3 separate regions of the Homo sapiens genome follow, and all the other regions are linked to region 3. Evidence: fine-mapped expression QTL. A gene starts in region 3. Each other region holds a variant in brackets. All regions are shown on one strand. Distances are between the middles of the regions.

Region 1 (2,500 bases), 81 kb before region 3:
ATCAAATTTTCAGAAAGGTAAGGATAGAAAGAACCCCAGACATCACCTAGCCTAGTCCTCTCACTCTATAGATAAAGAGGCTAAAGGATGTGATCGTTAGAAGGGAGGTTAGAGGCTGTGACAGACTGAAGCATTTCTCCTGTTTCTTTCTGCCATCCCTGAACTACAATTTTAAGTGCACAACTTTTGCCACTGGACTTTGTAGGATCCTCTAAAATGGGGAATGGATATCTTCCCACCCTACTGATATTGGACAGGGCCACATGCCTTGATTCAGCCAATGGAATGTGGAATGGAGTGAGGGTGTGCAGGCTCAAGCTGGGATGCTGTGACTCTCGATTACCCTCCTGTACTTCTGCCATCACAACAGGAAGACACACCTCCTAGCTTACTCCCAAGTGCCACTGCCTGAAGGAGACCTGGCCTGGTCATCTGCGGACCCTCAAGCAAGAGAAAACCACTGCTGCTTTAACCTCAGAGTTTAAATCACCACTGGGCAATGTGTTTTGAAGTTGCTTGATCCAGGAGGACAGGTGAGCTGAGGACTCGATTCTAACTCCCGCCCACCCTCGCCTGTCAGAATGCACACACAACCCATTGTCACTGAGGTGTCAGAGTAGAGCAAGGGATCAGCAGGAGATGATGATGCTGGAGAGGCAGAGATGAGGCCAGTCCTGAGGGGGAGTCATGTTGGCACATATTTGAGATGAATAGAAGATGAATAAGGAGACTCTAAGTGTCAAAATAAGAGTCTCAACCAGCAATCTTTGTCATCAACCTAAGGATCTGCTTTTGACTTCCATCTGCTTTCTTACAGGCTATGGCAATCATTCTTTTTGTAAGTACAGGGCTTTATAGCTAGTGAGCAAAGCCTAGAGATGTGAGAAGGGACTCTAGAGGTCCACTTTCCTGGATGTAACTTCCCATCTGGTCCTGGATGGCACAGCTGCAGCTGGACAGTAAAACATGTGTCATTTCCCCTTAGTGTAGG[C/T]GTTTTTCAAAAGGCCTTGATTTTTTCCCTGTGTCAAATGATCTTTGGCAAGGATGCCAAGATGACTCAGTGGGGGAAAGGACAGTCTCTTCAACAAATGATGTTGAAAAAACTGGATGTCCTTGTGCAAAAGAATGAAGTTAGACCCTTATCTCACACCATATGCAAAAATTAACTCAAAATGGATTAAAGACCCAGCAAGGTGCAGTGGCTCTTGCCTATAATCCCAGCTACTTGGGAGGCTGAGGTAGGAGAATCACTTGAGGCCAGGAGTTCAAGATCAGCCTGAGCAACATAGCGAGACCCTGTCTCTACACACACACACACACACACACACACACACACACACACACACAAAAACAGTAAAATTAAAACAAAATAGATTTAAATGCCTAAATGTAACATCTGTACAACTCCTAGAGAAAACCATAGGCATAAAGTTTCATGACATTGGATTTGGCAATGATTTCTTGGATATGACACCAAAAGCACAGGCAACAAAAGCAAAAACAGACAAATGGGACTCCATCGAAGGACACAACTTAAGTTCCTTGAAGGACACAATCAACAAAGTAAAAAGGAAACTTATGGAATAGGAGAAAATATTTGCTAATCATATATCTGACAGTGGGTTAATGTCTAGAATGTAAGAAGAACTTCTACAACTCAACAACAAAAATCAAATAAATGATTAAAAAATGAGCAAAGGGGCTAGGCATGGTGGCTCACACCTGTAATCCCAGCATTTTGGGAAGCTGAGGCGGGCAGATCACTTGAGGTCAGGAGTTCGAGACCAGCCTGGCCAACATGGTGAAATCCCATCTCTACAAAAATACAAAAAATTAGCCAGGCGTGGTGGTGGGCACCTGTAATCCCAGCTACTCAGAAGGCTGAGGCAGGAGAATTGCTTGAACCTGGGAGGCGGAGGTTGCAGTGAGCCGAGATTGAGCCATTGCACTCCAGCCCGGGCAACCATGTGAGACTCTGTCTCAAAAAAACAAAAAACAAAACAAAACAAAAAAACAAACAAACAAAAAAAGGATTTGAACAGACATTTCTCTAAAGATGTTATACAAACGATCAACAAGCATATGAAAAGATGCTCAGCCAGGTGTGGTGGCTTATGCCTGTAGTCCCAGCACTTTGGGAGGCTGAAACAGGCAGATCACCTGAGGTCAGGAGTTCAAGACCAGCCTGGCCAACATGGCAAAACCCCATCTCTACTAAAAGTACAAAAATTAGCTGGGTGTGGTGGCAGGCACCTGTAATCACAGCTACTCAGGAGGCTGAGGCAGAAGAATCACTTGAACCCAGGAGGTGGAGGTTGCAGTGAGCCGAGACCATGCCATTGCACTCCAGCCTGGGCGACAAGAGCGAGATTCTGTCTCAAAAAAAAAAAAAAGAAAGAAAGAAAGAAAGAAAAGATGCTTGTGGTTGGGCATGGTGGCACAGGCCTGTAATCCCGATACTTCGGGAGGCTGAGGTGGGATACTTTGGGAGGCTGAGGTG
Region 2 (2,840 bases), 70 kb after region 3:
GGGTGGGGGTAGAGAACCAGCCAAAGATGTCATCGGCTGGGCGTGGTGGCTCACGCCTGTAATCCCAGCACTTTGGGAGGCTAAGGTGGGCAGATCATGAGGTCAGGAGATCGAGACCATCCTGGCTAACACGGTGAAACCCCGTCTCTACTAAAAATACAAAAAATTAGCCGAGCATGGTGGAGGGTGCCTGTAGTCCCAGCTACTCAGGAGGCTGAGGCAGGAGAATAACATGAACCTGGGAGGTGGAGTTTGCAGTGAGCTGAGATGGCGCCACTGCACTCCAGCCTAGGCGACAGAGCGAGACTCTGTCTCAAGAAAAAAAAAAAGATGTTATCATCAATACTCTGGAAAGAGACCCCTCTGGCAGGGCTGGAAGCACAGGTCTACCATCAGTGCTCCCTACTCTGGAAATCTTTGCTTCCCTTGGCTAGTTGCTCACCTCCTCAGCCACGATCTCACTTCTTGTTCAAAAGCCTGCACTTCACTCTCACCTAGATGAAGTTCTCACTCCTCTATAAAATGGAGGTGATAACAAGAGCTCCCCAGAGAGGACTATGAGGCTGCATGATGCATGACAGGTCCCAAGCACAGAAGTGGACCGTGTTGGGTTCAGAGTCCACGCTAATAAACTACAGCCCCTGCGGTTTGATGCCAGCTCCGCCCTGACTCACCGTCAGAAAGCTGTCTTCATTCTAGCTCAGCTCAAAAGGCAGAAGGTCAATGGGATGTTAGGCTGGATAAAACAACTCCATACCATGTCCCAAACCTGGTTCCAGTACCTAGAGAGAAGGCGACTCTGGTCTGCCTTGTGGCAGTTTAAGCTCTGGTGTTTCGTGGGTGCTTGGGGGCTGCTCCCAGACTGGTGAGGCTTTGAGGGAAAGGGGGACTCAGAGCAAGTGAGGATGCCTGCTGTTCCCTGGGAGAGGCTGGCAGCTGCTTAGCCTATGAAAGTGCTTAGTGTGGGATGAATGACTGTCACAATAATGATCATTATTAATTGATGGTGGCACCTGGGTCCCTAAATGGTGACACCTGCCTGGTCCATGATGGGGTTCTAGGCAGCAGTGCTGAAGGGAGGATGGAGGAGGCATTTCTGGGCACAAGGAGACCCTCTGCCCATGGGCAAAGCTGAGACAACTGACCTGAACCTAAGATTCAAGTGCCTGAACTGAGTCCTAGGGTTCCTGGGGCTTAGGGCCAGGGCACCTAGAACTGCCTCTTCTGCCAAGGCCTTGGGGAAGATCTGCATCTCCAATCAGCCCAAATCCTGCAGAGCTGGTC[G/A]AGTGTCTGGGTATCACCATTCCTCACCCAGGGATAGAGGCAGGACACCCTCTCTGATGAAAGATTTAGAGCTCAGGAAGTGAAATCTTGCCAGACTCATCTTCTGAGCCCTGGTCAGATGCTCTGCCTCCTGGAAGCCTTCCAGGCTGAGTTAGTTGTTCATTCTTCTGGGTTCCCACAGATTTTAGATAAACCTTGGTCCCTGGTTGTGTCTCAGCATCTTTAAGCCCTGGAGTTTGGCAAGTCTGCGTATGTACTCCAGCTCTGTCTGCCCTCTACTAGCTGCGTGACCTTGGGCAGGTGACGTTACCTCTCTGAGCTTTGGTTTCTTTACCAGGAGGGTAGACTAACAGGGGTGCTTGATGCATCAGCTGTGAGACTTAAATGAAATGCAATAGGTGGGGCAATTAGCCCTCTGGCACCCCAGCCCACCTGCACCTCTCTGTCCCTCACTCAGCCTTAGAGCCTGTTCTGGGCTCTCTGCAGGCGTCTGCGGTTGCTGTGTCCTTGGCCCAAGGATACCTGGAATCTTTCTGTGCCCTTGGATGAAAGAGCTGCTTGCTTGTTGGGGTCCAAAGAGAGGTGAGGACTGGCCAGAGCTGTCCAGTGGAGGCAGAAGGCCTGGGCAACACCTGCAGGGTACTGGGGTGTGCCACCTGCTATCCCCAGGAAGCAAACTCATGAATATTCACACCACTGGAGTGGGAGGGAGCCAGCCAGCTTGCTGCTGGGTGTCATTGGAGCATTCCTGTCTCCCAGTGATCGCAGAGGCAGCCTGGGAGTTGGACGTGGCTCAGGCAGTGGGTAGAAAGGGGCAGCCAGCCACAGCCCGAGGTGAGTGTGTCTCTTTTGCTCCACCACAGGGGTTACAGGGAAAGTAGGATACCCTGAGACCTGACTGGTGGTGATGCTCTAAGCCAGAAGGTTTACCATCCTGGGCTGAGTTTCCCTTTGTGCATGATGTGGGGGAATAAGTCCTGTTTCTCCTTCATTCCCTGGAGGGCATCAGTTCAGCTAAACAGGAGGATGGCTGGGCCTGGCCTGCTGCCAGCTGCCTGCACTGATGCAGGCCAATGTGATGGGCGTAATCTAGAAGGGCAGGAATAGATGGAGTGGGCTGGTGACGGGGGGACCGTCCATCCTGAGTGCCTGCAGTTGTCACTACTGTGGGTGGAGGAGGTGGGAGACCCAGGTTCTAGTCCTGTCTCTGCTGCTGCTGGGCTGTGTTACCCCAAAGGTATCCTTGCCCTCTCTGAGTCTGAGCCTCCCTGCCTCTTTGTCTTCTGACCCTGAGGCTAGGAGTCTCTGGCTACATTGAGATCATCCCTGGACTTGGCTGCCTGCAAGCCTCCATCGTGGGCCAGTGGGCACACACTTTGATGGGGTTGTGGCTGGGACCCTGGGAACGTAATGATGATAATGATGATAACAATGATGGCAGGCCCTGCTGAGTGACTGTCTGCTCTGCACCAGCCTCGGGCTGGGTGCTTTCCCTGTGGAATGCAGAGGATCTGCACAGCACCCTGTGATGGAGGGTCAGCTGGTACAGGTTGAGT
Region 3 (2,840 bases):
AGGCAGAAGAATCACTTGAACCCAGGATGCGGAGGCTGTATTGAGCTGAGATCTCACCAATGCAGCCTGGGTGACAGAGCCAGACCCTGTCTAAATAAGTAAATAAACAAATAAACACGAGTTGGGCCTCCAGAGCCTGAGTCTGGGGCCTGGAACTCACTGAACTGTTGGCCCTCTCTGAGCCTCAGTTCTGCTTCCTCCACAGCCATGAACCTCAGTTTCCTCATTTGTAAAATGGGACAACAGCCATACCCCTCACAGGGCCATCCAGGCCATGCACCCACCCGGACCCCCACCTTCTCAATTGGCCACCCAGGCACTTACTTTGCTGAACCGACTTGAGTCCGCGGAGGCAGGTGGCTGCGAGCAGGAAGCCACAGCCGGTAGGGGGTGTCCGGAACTCTCCAGCCAGGCTGCAGGCGGCCCCCAGGCAGAGCGGACCCATGGCGGCCAACTGAAGTGGGTGGTGGCGGCGGCCCAGCAGCAGCGCCGACAGGGCCAGGGTGAACAGAGGTGTGGTGGTAGTAACCAGTTGTGCCAGGTCCAGGGGCACAGCCCTTAGGCCCACGTTGCCGCAGGCCATGGACGTGCCAAAGGTGAGACTGAGCAGTAGGACTCGGCAGCGAGTGCCGCCTGGCATGGGGCGCCGTGCCCCCCGGTGGCATGCCAGGGCTGCCACCAGCATGTGCAGGGCCGACAGCAGCAGGGGCCGCCCAAAGCCGTGCACTGTGAAGATCCACTTGTTGAGGCTTGACATGCTGGCTCCCGCCAGCAGCCACACCAGTGCTGCCATGGCCACTCGGGCCCGGCCAGGCTGCCGGAGGGCCTGAGGGCTGCCAGGGGGCCACTCGGGGGGCCCAGCCGCCTGAGCACCACCAGCTGCTGCTCCTACTTCGGCTGAGGTCATCCTGCCATCATGGTGCTCCGGCGGGCAGCGGCACATCCGCACCAGTGAGGCTAGGGCAGGAGGCGGGCTCCCCAGTGACGACCTCTGGGCCACCAGAGAGTTCCGCTTGGGGCCAGGCTAGATCCTGGTTCCTCCGACCCCGTGTCCCGTTTCAGACAGGTGAGGACACTGCTTACTTGTGCCAGGCCTGTGCCAGCGATGTCTAGAAGCTAAGCTGTGTTTCCAGCTCAGACAGGGCAGAGCCAAGGTCGCGGCTGCTAGGATGCCAGGGTCTCCGATGCTCAAGCGTGGGCTCCAGGCACCTCTGCCCCGTGCCAGGTGGTCTCCACTTTCCTCCTCGCCTAGTGCCCACGTTATGCTTTTAGATGAAATCCTCGTTCCTTTTTTCTCTTCAGTCCCCAGGTCATTAGGGTGCGCGCAGATCCAGACCCTGGGAACTCCTGCGTGCTCTGGCCGTGACCAGGCCTGGCAGGGGGGCGATCTGGGCTCCGCGCCTGGCGGTGCCCGGCCCGGGGGGTCGCGGGCTCGCTGCCTCCCACAGCGCCCGGGCAGTGAGCTGACACCACGGCCCGTCCTCCGGCCGGTGCCTGGCGGCGAGCTAGGCGCGGATCCAGCAGGGCCTGCGCTCCAACTCCTGCTCTCTGAGGCTTTGGCTGCGGCTCTGGCTGCGGCTGTGACTCCGGCTGCGGCTCCTGCTGCGACTCACGCCCGGCTCCAGCTCAGGCCCGGCACGGCGGGCGCGGCGGTGCGCTCTTGACTCCGCCTCCGCCTCTGCCTCCCCCGCCGCCGCCCGCTCCCTACACGGAAAATTGGGCTGAGCACCCCAGCCAAGCCCCGCCCCAGGCCAAGCCCCGCCCCCGGACCGGGAGGGCGGTCTTGCCCCGCCCCAACGCCTCCCGCTCACAGCCCCTCCCCCATCGGCCTGGCATTTCCCCCATCAGCCCTCCTCCGCCCGGGGCCTGCGCATCTGCCCAGTAGACCCCCCCACGAGCTGGCGTGGTCAGCCTCTCTTCGCCGCCAGGGGGGACCAAGTCGCTCCCCACCCAGCGCCAAGGCGAGCCCTCCATGGAGATGAACGCGCATTGCTGGAGACACTGGGGTATCCCGCACAGCCGCCCAGGCTATCTTCAAGAAGCAGGGTAGTGAGGAGGGGCCCACAGCCCCCATCCTAGGACCAGTCTTACGCCCACCTGATCTCTGGCCACAATTATCTCGTGGGACCTCAGCATCCAGCAGAGCTGGATTACGGGGTCCCTTAAGGCACCTCCATCGCCCCTCCGTAGCCCCAGCATCCTCCCCAGCCTCCCAGTCCAGGGCGGCGCCCCCTGGGGACCCTCAGAGGGAAGCTGAATCACCAGGCAGGGATACCCACAGCTGCGGAAGTAGGTACCGCCGGCCGGCATCCTTCCCCGGCCAGCAGCCTCTGTCCGGTCCCCTGAGCACTCGAAGCTGACTCATAGCAGAACTTCCTGGGGTCCACCCTGTGCCCCAGCCCCGGCAAGACAGAGCCCTGGGCTGGGAGGCAGAGCGGTTGCCACTGAGCCCTTGTTCCTGTCTGGGTCTCGGTTTTCCCACCAGAACGACAGACGCTCTCTGAGGTCAGGATTGGGTAAACGGCGCGCCCCAGGGCAGAAGAGGTCCATCCAGATTCCAGGCTAGGCCAGGCCCTGGCCCCTCTGAGCTCTGAAGTCCGGGAGCACGAGGACCAAGGCCCAGCCATGTGCCCAGTATCAGATGTGAGCCTCTTTCCTGTTGTCGGTCTTCCTACTAGGCTCCTGCCCAAGAGGACCCAGCTCACCCCTTGCCTGTTGTCTAACCAGCAAATCCTTGATGACAGCAACCTGTCTTGAGACACAAGATCTCAAAGGGGTACCGCTGAACCCAGCCCGCTGCGCCCTCTGGTGGCCAGGCGCTGAATATAGCCCTCAATCCC

Alleles and levels. Alleles are on the strand shown, and positions count from the first base shown. SD is a standard deviation of normalised expression in the study named. Not every link is listed here.
In carriers of allele G in region 2, the expression in sigmoid colon of the gene that starts at base 1,613 in region 3 tends to be higher than with A alone (small effect, 0.37 SD a copy in GTEx).

The links.
Region 1: its variant is fine-mapped to the expression of SLC35E4 in fibroblasts (GTEx, PIP above 0.99). The same link has a PIP of 0.9 or more in adrenal gland.
Region 2: its variant is fine-mapped to the expression of SLC35E4 in sigmoid colon (GTEx, PIP above 0.99).

What each region holds. Positions count from the first base shown.
Region 1 is chr22:30,715,938-30,718,437 of GRCh38, reverse strand. All of the region lies in intron 1 of OSBP2 (oxysterol binding protein 2), which reads right to left. Among named protein-coding and RNA genes, the nearest start is that of MIR3200, 14 kb to the left of the region's middle. RefSeq lists an enhancer at 391-1,590. The variant C/T (reference allele first, on the strand shown) is at 992.
Region 2 is chr22:30,564,103-30,566,942 of GRCh38, reverse strand. All of the region lies in intron 1 of GAL3ST1 (galactose-3-O-sulfotransferase 1), which reads left to right. Among named protein-coding and RNA genes, the nearest start is that of GAL3ST1, 9.1 kb to the left of the region's middle. RefSeq lists a silencer at 1,314-1,514. The variant G/A (reference allele first, on the strand shown) is at 1,285.
Region 3 is chr22:30,634,554-30,637,393 of GRCh38, reverse strand. It overlaps SLC35E4 (solute carrier family 35 member E4), which reads right to left and starts at 1,613. Exons shown (of 2, transcript NM_001001479.4): 1 at 325-1,613. The coding sequence starts at 943. RefSeq lists a silencer at 1,406-1,855 and an enhancer at 2,187-2,840.